5 linked regions of the Homo sapiens genome follow. The protein of the gene in region 1 interacts with the protein of each later gene in a pairwise test. Each region holds a gene or a part of one and is shown in the gene's direction. Other genes may lie near its edges. The genes, in order: ENTREP1, WWC2, POLH, CCDC127 and USF2.

Region 1 (3,521 bases):
TTTCCACGAGCCAAACACCATCTAAGTCCTTTACATGCATCCTCTCCTGAGAATTGTCTTATGGAGGCAGCGTTATTATTATTTTAAAGATTTTCTACATTGTATTCTGGTGATGTTTGTTGAAGTACTTAGTGGTGCCATTGTTTCCTTGCCCCAGAAAGTCCTCTTTGCCCTGTGTGCCTTGAATGCCCTGACCACCACCGTCTGCTTGGTGGCCGCTGCCCTCCGCTACCTCCAGATATTCGCAACCAGGAGATCCTGCATCGTAAGTCTATGCAAGGGCATCATGGCCACGTTTCCGCTGAGCCAGCCCATGGACCCCTTCGTGTCATCCACTGCCTCTCTCCCCGTGCCTTTGTAATGAAGGCTGTTGACTAACTGAGCTGCTGTTTAATCAGGATGAATCCCAGATTTCTGCTGAAGAAGCGGAGGATCATGGACGCATCCCCGACCCTGATGATTTTGTGCCGCCTGTGCCTCCCCCTTCCTATTTTGCCACGTTTTACTCGTGCACACCCCGGATGAACCGCAGGTATCGTTCCTGAGTTCCCCTGCAGTCTGAGTGGGATGCTGTGGGTTCTGAAGACTGAAGTGTCTCCAGAACTCACCACATGAGATCTCACTTTTCTTTGAAAAAGAAAAAGAAAAATTTTTCCTGACTTGAGGAACGTTAGCCCAATGAGTGACAAAATCAGCTAGTGAACCCTGTGGTATGGCTTTTAGAGAGTCCACCTCTGCCAGCCTTCTTTAGAAAAATGAAAAACAATTATGCTGTTTTTCAGGGGTTTCTATTCTCTCTGTCTCTCTCTCTCTGTTTTCTGTCTTACTTTCTCTTTTTGTCTGATAAAACAGATGAATCCAAAGAAAAGTTAAACTTTGGCCTGAAGATAGACATTTTCAATTTCAATTAGCTTTCTAAGGGAAACTGACACCCAGGGAGATAACAGCTGTAATTTGACATGATTGAGAGTCGCTGTTGCCTTGGAAACACTCCCAGTTAGGCCAAATCGATGTTTCATTGTAATACCATCAGCAGGTCTCAACAATCAAGAAATTCTTCCTAGCCATTAAAAAGAGATTAATTATTAATTGTCTCTCCCTGGTCTAGAAAAAATAGATACCATACTTATTTTCCTTTTCAAATTTCAAACTTAAAATTTTGACCTTCTTAAATATCAAGGATTTTTATTGGTACAGTGAAATGCCGCATACATCTGTCTGATTGTTAGCAACTTCTAGAATCAAACCTTTTTTTAAAGAATGACTTCATTTAGGCGCGGCGTGGTGGCTCACACCTGTAATCCCAGCACTTTGGGAGGCTGAGGCGGGCAGATCATGAGGTCAGGAGATCAAGACCATCCTGGCTAACCCCCGTCTCTACTAAAAATACAAAAAAATTAGCCGGGCATGGTAGTGGGCACCTGTAGTCCCAGCTACTTGGGAGGCTGAGGCAGGAGAATGGCATGAACCTGGGAGGTGGAGCTTGCAGTGAGCTGAGATCGCACCACTGCACTCCAGCCTGGGTGAGAGCGAGACTTTGTCTCAAAAAAAAAAAAAAGAATGACTTCATTCGTTTATTCATTCAACAAACGTGGAATCCTCTGTGCTGGGTTATTGGAATTCAAAATGAGCTAGACCTGCTTCCTCCTCTACCATTAAGGAGCTCACAGTCTAGGTCATTAAAATGTGTGTTGGAAGGATCACGGTAATATTCAAAAGAGGGACTTTGGGTGCACAGAGAAGGTACACCTAACCCAGAGTGGCAAGGCAGTCAGAGATGGCTTCCTGGATGAAGTGAACTTAAGCTGAGTTTAAAGGATAAGCAAACATCTGTTGAACTTTTTGAAAGAGAATCTCTTAATTCCACAGAAATACTAGTGTCTTTAGCTTCATATTCAGAGGGCCAGAAATTTCTATTTTTTAATCCCTGTAGTACATGTAGAGACTTATCAAACTAACTTGGTGCTGAGCTTGAGGTTTTTAGAGAAGTATTTTCTAATGTCCAGGGTGATGGTATGTGACTTTGAGATAGGTCACCAGTGGGGCTGCCACCCAGACACTGTTAGTGTTCTTTTCAGTGGCTTAGCTGCTGACTCGTCCCTCAGTTATACCTGAACCCTACGTCTATACCCTCCCCAGCTCACTTGCCCAGGCAGGGGCAGAGATGACTGCAAAGCTGGAGGGGATGTCAGCTGGGTGACAGGTGGCCTGGGCTAGGCCTGTGGGACAGCTTGGCCTCTCTGGTGTTCAGGGAGTGGCCTCTACTGGAATTTCAAAGCCTCAGGGGCTGGGATGGCTTCCTTAATCTTTCAGGAAATGAGCCAAGAATGACAGAGGCTGAAGAGATATGGCAGCAAAACACATGTTCTTTCTGTACCTGAGGACACATTTGCAAAAATCTTAGCGCCGTCTCAGGCTGTCTGTAGAGGGTACATTGGAGGACAGTAAAAAATGACTGATATTTCATGGTGGGGATGAGAAATACCCTCTCCAATAAGAAGAATTCTTTGACACTGAGGTTGCGGATGAGCACTCTGTTGACCTAGGAGGAGGCAGCAGACAGATTTAGTTTCTGCAGTGGCAGAAAGGGAAAGTGACTCATGTGGGTTTAGGAGCCGAGCCATCCAGCAGTGTGCTCTGAGCACTCCCGACCTTCCTGTCTCCTCGCTTTCCTTTCTCTTCTCTGCTTCACCATAATAATGCTCATCACTGCAGATATTTCCACTCTTTAAGATCTAGGTGCATCCTCGGATTTGTCTCTCTGAGTCCTGAGACAGCCTCTGGCCAAATCCAGGTTGGAAGAAAACAGACAAGCTTCTCATCAAGGGCTTTATCCTTCAAAACTTTCTAGAAAGAAGGCCGAAGGAGGGAGTTAAAGCAAAACAGTCTTGTGAGAAAGAAGACATTGCCCAGTCTAAAATACGTGCCTAGAGCCCTATAATCATATTGCCAATGGGCAAACACCTTTATTTTTGGAAATTTTACCAATATCAGAGTGCAGTCCACTTTCCTTTTCAAAAGGGCTGAATTTATTCACATTTAGATACATGTCCTATCAAAAATATTTCACAATGTGACCAACTTTTCTAGATTCACGGTATAAATCAACTTTATAGACACTCATGGTTTAACCTCAGTTGGTAATTTTCTTTCTTTTAAGCAGGCAGGCAAGAATATTCATGATTGTTACTATTTTATGACCAGTTTTATCCAGAGTTTTCACACAACAGAGGCTCCCCATTTCCTGTAAGGTATTATGACCTCTCAGAAGAGGTTTGTTTAACTTCTATAAATACAACCACTTCATGCGTTGGCATCTCCTTGAGAAAAGGCTTCTCGAGTTACTGTCATAAACAGAAGTCTGATTGCAGTTGAGGTTTCTGTCCAAAGATGGGTTCGCTACTTTGTGAATTGATTTGTAATACAGGAGGGGGCCGTGCACCCCACCCCACCTCCGCTACTCCAGGGTGTCTCTGTTCTCAGAAGTTGGCTTGAGCCAGGGATCAAGGAGTCTCCAACCT
Region 2 (3,521 bases), on another chromosome or scaffold:
TGCCAGGCGTGGTGGCGGGTGCCTGTAGTCCCAGCTACTTGGGTGGCTGAGGCAGGAGAATGGCGTGAACCCGGGAAGCGGAGCTTGCAGTGAGCAGACATTGCGCCAATGCACTCCAGCCTGGGTGACAGAACGGGACTCTGTCTTAAAAAAAAAAAAAAAAGAATTTTGGACTTCTTTATGCATTTCTAAACTCCTGTTACTGAAAAAGTTACCACAGAATAATGTAGAAGAGGAAAGGGATTTTTTTTTTTTGACAAGAGTTTTATTCTTGTTGCCCAGGCTGGGGTGCAGTGGTGTGATTTCGGCTCACTACAGCCTCCGCCTCCTGGGTTCAAGGTTCAAGCAATTCTGCCTCAGCCTCCCGAGTAGCTGGGATTATAGGCTCTCGCCACCACGCCCAGCTAGTTTTTGTATTTTTAATAGAGATGGGGTTTCACCATGTTGGCCAGGCTAGTCTCGAACTTCTGACCTCAGGTGATCTGCCCATCTCAGCCTCCCAAAATGCTGGGATTACAGGCATGAGCCACCACGCCCGGCTGAGGAAAGGGATTTTTAAAGGCACAGTGTGTATGTAAGTTGTGAGATACAAATGATTTATCAAAATATAGGTTCACAATGTTTTCAATGTCTTCAGTGATTTTTTCCAATTATTTTATCTTTATTAGATTAAAAAAATTCCTCAGCATAAAATTATTCATTTTAACCATTTTGAAGACTACACCTTAGTAGTTTTTAGTATATTCATTGTTATGAAACCATAAACACTGTATAATTCCTGAACATTTTAATCACCCCCAAAACAAACGACCCCTTACCTATTAAGAACTCACTTCTCATTCATCTCCCGTCTCTACAGCTTTTTGCAAAAACTGATCTACTTTGTGTCTCTGAATTTGCCTATTCTGGACATTTTATATAAATGGAATAGTAAAATTTGTATCCCTTTGTATCTGGCTTCTTTTTTTCTTAGTGTAATGCATTCAGGGTTCATTTTGTAGCATTTATTGTACTACTGCATCATTTTCATGACTTAATAATATTCGATTGTGTAGATATACCATATTTTGTACTTTCATTAGCTGATGTGCATTTGGGTCATTTCCACTCTTTGGCTGTTATGAATGATGCTGCTATGAATATCCCTGTACAATTTTTGTATGAATGTGTGTCTTCAGTTCTCTTCAGTATATACATGTCTAAAAGTGGAGTTGCTGGGTCATATGGCAGTTCTATGTTTAACTTTTTGAGGGGACTGCTAGACTGTTTACCACCATTTTACATTCCCACCAGCAGGGTATGAGTGTGCAAATTCCTCCACATCCTCACCAACACTTCTCTCTCTTTCTCTCCTTCTCTCCTCTTTCTGTCTCTCTCTTCTCTTTCCTTCTCTTCTCTTCTCTCTTTTCTTTTTTTCTTTTCTTTCTTCTTTTGAGACGGAGCCGGTCTCTCTTGCCCAGGCTGGAGTGCAGTGGTGATCTCGGCTCACTGCGGCTTCCACCTCCACCTCCAGGGTTCAACAGATCCTCCCACCTCAGCCTCCTGAGTAGCTGGGATTATAGGCACAAGCCACCATGCCTGGGCAATTTTTGTATTTTTAGTAGAGACGGGGTTGGGCCGGTCTCGAACTTTTGACCTCAAGTGATCTGCCTACCTTGGCCTTCCAAAGTGCTAGGATTACAGATGTGAGCCACCACAACTGGCCTCACTTCTTTCTTTTTTTTAAAAAGTTATTTTAGTGGGTGTGAGGTAGGATCTTACTGTGGTGTTGATTTGTATTTCCCTCTTCGTAGTGTTTTGATGGCCTTAGTTGGGCCCAAGCCTCCCCTTATTCTAGCCTTTTATAGCTGTTGCTATTCTGCCCCCTTTTTGTTTGTGTACTCTCACTCTTACTTGATCAATAAAAAGTTAGGTAAGAGAAGTTAGAGGGTTTTTTTAGTCTCACATTGCTCTTCCCTTTTCTCCCTATCTGATTGCTTTGAGTGATTATTTAATACTGACATTGTAGATATGCATTAATTAACAGTTTTTATTGTATCAACCAGCCAGGTACCCTGGACTCTGGGAGATAAAGATGGATAAGATTTGGTCCCAGCTCAGCTTGCCTACAATCTAGTGTGCATAATCATCATTTAAAAAGTGAAAGAAAATTTTGAGTATTATCTGTTAAATTTTCTCTATATTCCTATATTTCAGTTTAAGGGTACCTTCTTCCTAAACACTCAGAGGGAAGACAGTTGAAAGGAATTAAAAGCAGAATATATTGGCAAAGTATATATTAATTTTTTTCTTTATTTCAAATGTGATGTATTTTATGAGGCATTTGTGTGAGTCACGTAATGAATCATATGTGCAATGTATATACATCAGCTTATTCAAAATGATTTGACATGTAAAGGCTTTTCCTTTTAGCTCGTTATATATGTGAAGAATTAAATTTATTTTTGTTCATTGTTTTTTTAAAAAATGGCAGGAGCAAACCTGACAAGCGCTGCCTCCATCAGGTGATCAAAGGGAACATCCAGGGCACTAAGTCCTGCTGATACACCCTTGATGTGATGTGGTGACAATGGCATTTTATCTTTGTGGTCTTTCTCCCCCAAAACCGTAGTAACTCCAGTCTAATCTTGAGAAAAACACCTACTGGATCCCAGTAGAGGGGTATCCTATAAAATACCTGACCAGTACCCCTCAAAACCGTCAAGATCCTCACCAATAAGGAAAGTCTGAGAAACCCTCACAGCCATGAGGAGCGTAAGGAGACACCAAGACTAAATGTAATGTGTCCCAGGGGTGGAGGAGTCCTGGGCTGGAAAAAGGACATTAGGTGAAAACTAAGGAAATCTGAATAAGGTATGGATTGTAGTTAAAATTTTTTTTTTTTTTGAGACACAGCCTCACTCTTTCACCCAGGCTGGAGTGCAGTGTTGTGATCTCGGCTCACTGCAGCCTCAGCCTCCCGGGTTCAAGCAATTCTCCTGCCTCAGCCTCCCCAGTAGCTGGGATTACAGGCATGTGCCACCACACCCAGCTAATTTTTGTATTTTTAGTAGAGATAGGGTTTCACCATGTTGGCCAGGCTAGTCTTGAACTCCTGACCTAGTGATCTGCCTGCCTCGGCCTCCCAAAGTGCTGGGATTACAGGTGTGAGACACCACACCCGGCCCGATTGTAGTTAATTTTATTAATGTTAATAGATGTACCATACCAACAGGGAAAAGTAAGTGTGGACTATATATGGCAACTTTCCACACTAATTTTGTGGTTTTTTTTCTATAAATCTAAGACTGTTCTAAAAAATAAAATTTTAAAAGACCTCTTAAAAGTCACACAAAACGAAGTGATTTTCTTTGGTGGAAGCATAACCATGTTTGTTGTTTATATGAAAATTCTGCTTTGTAGGCCTCATTTTAGCCCTCCAGCTAAGAATGGGTTTTAAATCATGAAAAGCTGTAAACAAACAAACAAAAATAAAGAAGAATATGTGACAGAGACTAAATGTGGTTCACAAAGCCTGGAAT
Region 3 (3,440 bases), on another chromosome or scaffold:
AATCCTCTAAAGCAACTCCTGCAGAGATGGATTTGGCCCACAACAGCCAAAGCATGCACGCCTCTTCAGCTTCCAAATCTGTGCTGGAGGTGACTCAGAAAGCAACCCCAAATCCAAGTCTTCTAGCTGCTGAGGACCAAGTGCCCTGTGAGAAGTGTGGCTCCCTGGTACCGGTATGGGATATGCCAGAACACATGGACTATCATTTTGCATTGGAGTTGCAGAAATCCTTTTTGCAGCCCCACTCTTCAAACCCCCAGGTTGTTTCTGCCGTATCTCATCAAGGCAAAAGAAATCCCAAGAGCCCTTTGGCCTGCACTAATAAACGCCCCAGGCCTGAGGGCATGCAAACATTGGAATCATTTTTTAAGCCATTAACACATTAGTGCTGCCCTCAGGCTTGCCTGTAGGATTTAATATTTTTTATCTTTACAGATCTTTATCTTTAATATTTTATCTTTACAGATTTCCCTGAGAAAGGGAATTATGAAATTTTTAATACAAAAAATAATCCATTTAGGTGCTGAGTTACGGTCCCATCTCTTCACAGGCATGGATTCTAATCCCACTGCTGACAGAGATGTAAAAATTCATCCTACCAGAGTTTTTAATCTTTAGCATTTAGGGAGGCAGTGTCATAAAGTAAAAAGTGTGTGGGCCTTGGAGTCTAAGAGACGTGGTTGCAAACTTAGCTCTGGTTATTGCAATGAGGGCCTTGAACAAGTCATTTTCTTCACATTCTCATCTGTAAAATGGAGATAATACCTTACAGATTATTGCAGATTAATAACAATGTATTCAAATTATGTAACTCGGCCGGGTACAATGGCTCACGCCTGTAATCCTAACACTTTGGGAGGCCGAGGCAGACAGATCACCTGAGGTCAGGAGTTTGAGACCAGCCTGGCCAACATGGCAAAACCATCTCTACTAAAAATAGAAAAATTAGCCAGGCACGTTCCAGGCACCTGTGATCCCAGCTACTTAGAGGCTGAGGCAGAAGAATTGCTTTAACCTTGGAGGCGGAGGTTGCATTGAGCTGAGATCATGCTAGTGCGCTCCAGCCTGGGCAACAGAGCGAGACTTCATCTCAGAAAATAAAAAATAGGGGCCAGGCACAGTGGCTCATACCTGTAATGCCAGCACTTTGGGAGGCCAAGGCGGGCAGATCACGAGGTCAGGAGTTTCAGACCAATATGGTGAAACCCCATCTCTACTAAAATTACAAAAAAAATTATCCAGGCGTGGTGGTGCACGCCTGTAATCCCAGCTACTCAGGAGGCTAAGGCAGGAGAATCACTTGAACCCAGGAGGCAGAGGTTGGAGTGAGCTGAGATCGCGCCACCGCACTCCAGCCTGGGCAACAGAGCGAGACTCCATCTCAAACAAAAACAAGAACAAAAACAAACATAAAGTTGGCACAGAAAAGGGACCAAGTTTAAAAAAGGGTTTTAAATGTAATGAGACTTGCATAGTTAAAAAAAAAAAAGGGATTATTTTTATTTTTATTTTTTATTTTTGAGACGGAGTCTCCCTCTGTCGTCAGGCTAGAATGCAGTGGTGCGTTCTCAGCTCACCGCAACCTCCGTCTCCTGGGTTCAAGCAATTCTCCTGCCTCAGCCTCCCAAGTAGCTGGGACTACAGGCACGTGCTACCACACTCAGCTAATTTTTGTATTTTTAATAGAGATGAGGTTTCACCATGTTGGCCAGGATGGTCTCGATTGCTTGACCTCATGATCCGCCTGCCTCGACCTCCCAAAGTTGCTGGGATTACAGATGTTAGCCACCGATCCTGGCCCCCCCAAAAAAAGGATTTTAAGAAAAACTTCTCTTGGCCGGGCGCAGTGGCTCACGCCTGCAATCCCAGCACTTTGGGAGGCCGAGGCGGGCGGATCACAAGGTCAGGAGATCGAGACCACGGTGAAACCCCGTCTCTACTAAAAAATACAAAAAAAAATTAGCCGGGTGCGGTGGCAGGCGCCTGTAGTCCCAGCTACTCGGGAGGCTGAGGCAGGAGAATGGTGTGAACCCGGGAGGCGGAGCTTGCAGTGAGCCGAGAGCGCGCCACTGCACTCCAGCCTGGGTGACAGAGCGAGACTCCGTCTCAAAAAAAAAAAAAAAAGAAAAACTTCTCTTTAGGCTGGGTGCGGTTCCTCATGCCTATAATCCCAGCATTTAGGGAGGCTGAGGTGAGTGGATTGCAGGAGCTCAGGAGTTCGAGACCAGCCTGGGCAAGGTGGCAAAACCCCGTCTCTACTAAAAAAAATTAGCTGGGCTTGGTGGCAGGCGCCTGTAATCCCAGGTACTCGGGAGACTGAGGCAGGAGAATTGCTTGAACCTGGAAGGTGGAGGTTGCAGTGAGTTGAGATCACACCAATGCACTCCAGCCAGGGTGAGAGTGAGAGACTGTCTCAAAAAAAAAAAAAACAAAAGAAAAACTTCTCTCTAGCTCTGTGACGGGCAGTTCAGATAATACCTTCACCAGATTTACCTGTTTTCAGCTGAAGAATGTGAGATGAAGCCTTGAAACCCTAAAAGTGATATGGTAACTAGGGCAGGTCTTTCTGTACATAAAAGTGACTTAATAAACAGTGAATTTCATACAGGTAAACCCTATTATACCCTCAGTTCTAACCATTGGCCTATCTCTTGCGTTTTGTTCTAATGTAGAATTAGATTGCTACTTGACTAGTTCAGGAACTCTGTTTAGATCTGATAAGTCATAATCAAATCTTGCCAGGCGTGGTGGTTTATGCCTGTTATCCCAGCACTTTGGGAGGCCAAGGCAGGTGGACCACGTGAAGTCAGGAGTTCAAGACAAGCATGGCCAACATGGCGAAACCCTGTATCTACTAAAAATACAAAAATTAGCCGGGCATGGTGGTGGGTGCGTGTAATCCCAGCTAGTTGGGAGGCTGAGGCAGGAGAATCACTTGAACCTGGGAGGCAGAGGTTGCAGTGAGCCGAGATTTCCACTGCATTCCAGCCTGGGCGATAGAGTAACTCTGTCTCAAAAAAACCCACTAGATCATCTCTAGAACATTGCTACTCCCAAGTATGATTTGAGGAACAGCAGCCTCAGTATCACCAGGGAACTTATTAGAAATAGTCTCAGCCTCACCACTATTCCCACTTAATTGTAATCTGATATTAACAAGATTTCCCAATGTGGGTCAGGTGTGGTGGCTCATGCCTGTAATCCCACACTTTGGGAGGCCAAGGTGGGCGGATCACTTGAGGCTGGGAGTTTGAGACCAGGCTGGCCAACATGGGGAAAACCCATCTCTACAAAAAATAACAAAAATTAGGTGTGTGTGGTGACGCATGCGTGTAATCCCAGCTACTTAGGAGGCTGAGGCAGGAGAATCACTTGAATCTGGGAGGCAGAGGTTGTAGTGAGCTGAGATTGTGCCACTGCACTCCAGTCTGGGCAACAGA
Region 4 (2,414 bases), on another chromosome or scaffold:
CCGTGCGATGTTGGGAGGAGCCAGGGTGTTTGGGGGGGCAGCTGCCCTAGACACTGGCTGGCTGTGATGGGGGGCAGCCTGCTGTGTAGACACTGGCTGGCTGTGATGGGGGGCAGCCTGCTGTGTAGACACTGGCTGGCTGTGATGGGGGCAGCCTGCTGTGTAGACGCTGGCTGTGATGGGGGCAGCCTGCTGTGTAGACGCTGGCTGGCTGTGATGGGGGCAGCCTGCTGTGTAGACGCTGGCTAGCTGTGATGGGGGCAGCCTGCTGTGTAGACGCTGGCTGGCTGTGATGGGGGCAGCCTGCTGTGTAGAAAGTGCTGGGCTTGCTCCGTCTGCCTTGACTTGTGTGAGTAACTGCGCTGGGTTTTATAGGTTGAGGCTGAAAAGGCTCCTCTTTCTATGCTGGGTTTGACGAAACAGTTGCTGTATTTCTCTATTAATTTAGGATTCTGTTTGCAAGCAGCAGAGATGGATTTGTGCTAGCCTAGAAAGTTAAAGAGGGATTTAAGGCTGTCTCGTGAAACTTCAGGTCAAGAATGGAGAACACAGGTTAGATGTCAGAGAAGAACCAGAAAGACAAATAAGGGACTCTCAGGGGCCTCGGAGTACTTGTCACTCTGTGTCATATCTCTGCATAGCCGCGCCAATCCCCAAACCAGCTTCTCTGGCCACACGGTGGGACAGGGCGGTTCCCACAGCTCCTGAGCCTGCCCCCTGCCTGGCCTGCTCCAGCGGGCGGCCGAGTTAGGGAAGCGCTGGGCTCCACCATACCGCGGTGTTCTAAAGGAGTGGGAACAATGAAGATCAGGGTTGCAGAGCCTGTGGCCTTTGCTAGCTTCATGGGAAATCTTGAAAAGAGAAAACGAAGGGCTTCAGTAAGCCACCCATGGACAGCAGGCATGCGGTGGAAGGCGGAGGGCTTCTGTGGCAGCTTCGCAGGTCTCTCATCTGCTGCAGACCCCCTGACAGGCTGAGGGTCTTGCTGTCGGGTAGCGGGACCAGATGAGCCTGAATGTGGCTCTGCGGCTCACAGGACAAGTGTACCTTGAGAGCTGCTGCCGCCGCCTGGATGTTTGCTGGGTGAGCTCCAGATTCACGGGAGCCCTTTGTGCCAGCATGGCCGCCCCAACCCCATGGGGAAAGCAGATCTCCCTCACCTGGGAATCTGGCAGAGACCTCAGGCAGTGCCCCATCTTTCATGACCTGCCTGGTCCAGGTAGAGGAGTCAAGTCCTGCTCCAGGAGCAGGTGCAGGGCCTGGCCTGGGTGCCGAGAGTGGGGTGAGGAGGGAGGAGTAACGAAGAAAGGCAGATGGGCAGAAAGTGCCACATTGGGGCACTCAAGTGGCTCTGTTTAATATTCCAGCAGGGACACTGAGACCGAGCCCATCCCTGCTGGGAGAGCTTCTCGAAGCTGGTTGGTGGCTGACAGGCAGGGAGTGGGGTGCTGGGGCCTCCTCGGGAGGTAGGGGTGCTGGGGCCCTGCTCTTGACAGCACTGTGCCATAGCTCCGAGGTGGCTGCTCCCCATGGGCCAGGGCTGGTGGTGCCAGAAAATGGGATCTGGGCTGAGGGGCTCTGGGCTGGCAGAGGTGGGGCGGGGGGTGACTGGCAGGCATCAAGATGGGGGGGGACAAGCACGGTGCCCCCACCCATGGGGCCGTGTGGGGCTGATGGATAGTGGGACTCCAGCATGCAGCAGATGATGGAGCCTTGCTCAACTCAGAAGAGGAAGAGCAGGAGAGCGCTGGTGGATGAGAGCAACCCTGATGTTCCAGGGCCCTTGGCCACGTCCACCACACAGAGGGGCCACGTCCACACAGAGGGGCCACGTCCACCACACAGAGGGGCCACGTCCACCACACAGGGGCCACTGGGCCTGCGTATATCTCCTTGGCCTGCGAGGGTATCATCATTTCCTGACCTGTGGAACAAGTCATTAAGCCAGGAAGGACTTGAGTTGGAGCCCCTAAAACGGCCCCCACTCCTTGCCAGGATGGTGGACAGGAAGCAGTGCCATGTTCTGAAGGAGCTGCACCAGCCCATGCTGCTGTGGAAGACCCAAGGGAGGCAAAGACGGTGGCTCCAGATGGCGGCCCCCATTGGGACCCTGCTCACATCACCCACTGGCCCTGGAAAGCCGGGGTGGGCCTGGGCAGGTGAACCCTGAGGCTCCGCCAGGAGCAGCCCCAGCTACAGCCACCATGGATGTTTGCTGGGTTGGATCAGCACTCTCACCTGCTGAATGGTTTTGCCTGATTCCCACTAGCTTGTCTTGTGTGGGAGGCCGTGTTTTCTGCGGTAGAGAAGTGCTCTCCATAAAAACCCAGCAGGCGTGCTCCTGGGCCCTGCAGACGCCGGATGTGTGGCCACAGACGCCATGCGACCCAGGACTGGAGTCACAAGATTGGGCG
Region 5 (3,521 bases), on another chromosome or scaffold:
TGTGGGTCAGGTTACTTTGTGGGGTGCTGGTTTGGTTGTGGGAGAAGTTCCATTTAGAATGCCTCAGGAGGGAAGATCGGGAAGGCCTCGAATGCCCGAGTGAGGGGCTGAATGCTGAGTCCTAAAGGTGGTGATGGGACTGGGGTCTGTGGCCCAGGTAGTTGTGTTCTGAGCAGCTCCTCCCTGAGTTCAGGCGTTCATTCAGCGCGTGCATACTACGACCAGCCCCCCTTTTGCGTCCTCAGATATGGCAATGCAGCAGATGATAGGACAGACAAGGTCTCAGCTCTCTGTGCGCGTTCTGGTGGGAGAGATGGGAGTCACACAGCCGCATCAGGCAGTGCAGGCAGTCACAGGCAGGAGAGGAAAGCTGGGGAAGAAGGTGGCGGGTGATGGCGGCATGGTAGTGTGCTCTGAAGGGCTCTTCGAGAGGTGACATTGAAGCAGATCCCTGAAGCGACCTGAGGGAAGGGGCCTGTTGAGAACCTCAGGAGAGTCCCGGGCAGAGGGAAGAGCTAGAACACAGGCCAGGCCCTGAGCCAGGGCCGCCATGGTGTGTCTGCAGAAGAGCAGAATTCAGGAAAGGAAAGAGGAAGTTGGCGCAGTGGAGGGGGCTGCCCAGGCCAGATGGTGGAGGACCTTGGAAGAAGTCCCCAGTGTGGCTGTCTGGGCTCCTGTGGTTTTATTCCAGGGTGATGAGAAGCCAGCAGAGGGGTTTGGGTTGTGGAGGCTGTTGGCAAGAGTGGTGGGAAGGGGCTGGGAGGTAGGAGACCATACGACTGTCAGGCCTGAGACAGGGCAGGGGTTGGGGGAAATGTGGGGAGGACTCCAAGGCTGGAGAATAAGGGTTTCGTGCTGAACTCCCCTCCATGCTTGGAAGGGAAGGGGTGCATCTGAGCTTGGTTTTGAGATGCAGTGAGTTTGAGGGGCCCCCAGAGCAGCCCCAGCCCCACGACTTACCTGTGGTGGGGCGTCAGGGTGGTTCTTAATCTCCGTACCTGTCTTCCCTCTGTGAAATGGTGGAAGCACAGCCGCCCCGGGCACCTGGTGGGGATGCAGTGAGTCTTGGTGGCCACACAGTAAGGCGAAGAGAGGACTCAGAACCCTCCCACCCCACTCTCACCCCCGCCTCTCCCTTAGTTAATCTGACTCCAGGCAGCCTTGAAACTTTCTCACCCTGTGAAGCAGTCTTCATCACCTGCCCACTTCTCCAGCTCCGTCCTGTCTCCGCTTTCCTGACTTGCAGAGCATCTGCCCCAATCTGCTCATCCTCCCAGTACCCTCAGCCATCTGGCTCATGGCTCTACCAAAACAGCTCCACTTCCGGTCACCCGTGGTGACCCCATTGCCACATCCACTGGCCTCCTTTGCTGTCTGGGCTCCAAGCATCTGATGCTGCCTGTTTCCCTCTGTTCCTTTCTGGAATCTTCCTTTCTCCTCCATCCTCTCTGATTCTCCTGTGATCTTTGCCTTTCCTACCCCACTGTTAACAGTGAAATTTCCAGGGCTGTCCCAGTTCCAAGTGAGTAGATGGGGGTGCCGGGGAATCTGTGTTTTCCATCAGCTCTTCAGGTGATTTGTCATAGTGGACAAGCTTGAGAAACTGCTTTGGCTGCGAGTGTTTCTTTTTTTTTGAGAAGGGGGTCTCACTCTGTCACCCAGGCTGGAGTACAGTGGCACAATCACAGCTCACTGCAGCCTTGACCTCCCAGGCTCAAGCGATCCTCACACCTCAGGCTTCTGAGTGGCTGGGACCACAGGCAGGCGTCATCACATGGGGTAATTTTTTTTTATCTGTAGAGTGGAGGTCTTGCTATGCTGCCCAGGCTCGTCTTGAACTTCTGGCCTCAGGCAGTCCTCCGGCCTCGGCTACAGGCCTGAGCTGCCACACCCAGTCTTGCTGGTGTTTCATAAGGTCCGGCCCCTCCCGTCGGCCTCAGGTGTATGACTTGTGAGGCCCAGCGATGGGCTCGGAAGCTCTTGGTCAGTATCCCCCAAACTCTGTTCCCCCTTGTAGGTGTTCCTCTTTTTTCTTTGCTGCAGAAGAGTGTGTGACTCACAAAAAGTTGAGGACTGTTCCTTGATGTCCTCCCAGGCTTCGCCCACCACCTGGCTCCTGGTAATGCAAGGAACTGTGTTTCCATCCATTCCCTTCCTTTCACTGCAACTCCAGCCCCACGTTTTGAACTACCTATTCGAGATTTCTGTCTCTGGACATCCCTGTAATGCCTCAAACTCAACTCGCCCAAAAGAGAATGTGCCATCTCCCGTCTCCAAAGGCTTTCATGCAACCTTCTTCTTTGCAGAGCAGCAAAAGCTACCCCTGTCACAGCTGCCCAAGCCAGAAACTAAGACCAGAGCCGCTTTCAACTCTGCCCTCTTCTTCCCTTATGGCCACAAACCCCAAGTTTCTCTTCTGTGGTGATTTCAGATCCGCTTCTCTCACTTCTTTTTCCCTCCTTCCCACCACTTCTTGGTACTGCAGGAGCTTATCCCAGAGTCACAGACTCAAATGCCTGCAGGGGCCTGAGGGAGGGAGGTGCACTTGGCATCTCAGGAAGGGGTGTGTGGCTGGGTGTGGTGGCTCCCGCCCGGAATCCCAGCACTTTTGGGATTACATTTTGGCCAAGACGGACGGATCACTTGAGCCCAGGAGTTTGAGACCATCCTAGGCAATGTGACAAAACCCTGTCTCTACCAAAAAAATTAAAAATTAGCCAGGCCTGGTGGTACATGCCTGTAACAGTCCCAGCTACTTGGGAACCTGTGGTGGGAAGATGGCTTGAGTCCGGGAGACAGAGGTTGCAGTGAGCTGAGATTACCCTCCAGCCTGAGCAACAGACCCAGACCTTGTGTCAGAAAAAGATAGGAAAGGTTGTGGGGGGCCCCCAGTGATCTGGGGCATGTGTGCGCTGCCTGAAGGGTGGCCCTTGCCCAGTGCCTTCCCCTTGCTGCCCTGTCAGAATCTAGGGCCACTGTTGCCAGAAACTCTGAGAAGCTAGAAATCGAGACTTATGTGAAATCTGATTTTTAGGTGCCAGATTAGATTGCTTTTTCCGTTTCATTGATTTCTACTCTTAATGTTACTAATTCATGCTTCTACTCACTTGGTTTTTTGTTTGTTTGTTGTTTTGTTTTGAGATGGAATCTCGCTCTGTCACAGTGGCGCAATCTCAGCTTACTACAACCTCTGCCTCCCCGGTTCAAGTGATTCTCCTGCCTCAGTCTCCCAAGTAGCTGGGACTACAGGTGCCCGCTGCCACACCTAGCTAGTTTTTGTATTTTTGGTAGAGACGGGGTTTCACCATGTTGGCCAGGCTGGTCTCGAACTCCTGGCCTCAGGTTATCCACCTGCCTCAGCCTCCCAAAGTGCTGGGATTACAGGAGTGAGCCACTGCACCCGGCCCCTTCTACTCACTTTGGATTCAATTTGCTAGGTTTCATGCTTTAGCTTCCCTGGCACACCCCAACCCCAGCTTTTTAAGGTAATTCTTTTTTTTTTTTTTTTTCCAATTTTCTAC

Evidence for each region.
Region 2: the proteins of ENTREP1 (region 1) and WWC2 interact in a two-hybrid assay, tested with the Homo sapiens proteins (one large-scale study listed by IntAct).
Region 3: the proteins of ENTREP1 (region 1) and POLH interact in a two-hybrid assay, tested with the Homo sapiens proteins (one large-scale study listed by IntAct).
Region 4: the proteins of ENTREP1 (region 1) and CCDC127 interact in a two-hybrid assay, tested with the Homo sapiens proteins (one large-scale study listed by IntAct).
Region 5: the proteins of ENTREP1 (region 1) and USF2 interact in a two-hybrid assay, tested with the Homo sapiens proteins (one large-scale study listed by IntAct).

What each region holds. Positions count from the first base shown.
Region 1 is NC_000009.12:69,377,213-69,380,733, forward strand, and holds part of ENTREP1 (endosomal transmembrane epsin interactor 1), read left to right. Parts: intron 1-157; coding exon 158-265; intron 266-398; coding exon 399-532; intron 533-3,521. UniProt on the Homo sapiens protein: Functions as an activator of the E3 ubiquitin protein ligase ITCH in the ubiquitination of the CXCL12-activated CXCR4 receptor. Thereby, triggers CXCR4 endocytosis and desensitization, negatively regulating the CXCL12/CXCR4 signaling pathway.
Region 2 is NC_000004.12:183,105,743-183,109,263, forward strand, and holds part of WWC2 (protein WWC2), read left to right. Parts: intron 1-3,521. UniProt on the Homo sapiens protein: Regulator of the Hippo signaling pathway, also known as the Salvador-Warts-Hippo (SWH) pathway.
Region 3 is NC_000006.12:43,614,172-43,617,611, forward strand, and holds part of POLH (DNA polymerase eta), read left to right. Parts: coding exon 1-386; 3' UTR 387-3,440. UniProt on the Homo sapiens protein: DNA polymerase specifically involved in the DNA repair by translesion synthesis (TLS). Due to low processivity on both damaged and normal DNA, cooperates with the heterotetrameric (REV3L, REV7, POLD2 and POLD3) POLZ complex for complete bypass of DNA lesions.
Region 4 is NC_000005.10:198,740-201,153, reverse strand, and holds part of CCDC127 (coiled-coil domain-containing protein 127), read left to right. Parts: 3' UTR 1-2,414.
Region 5 is NC_000019.10:35,271,941-35,275,461, forward strand, and holds part of USF2 (upstream stimulatory factor 2), read left to right. Parts: intron 1-3,521.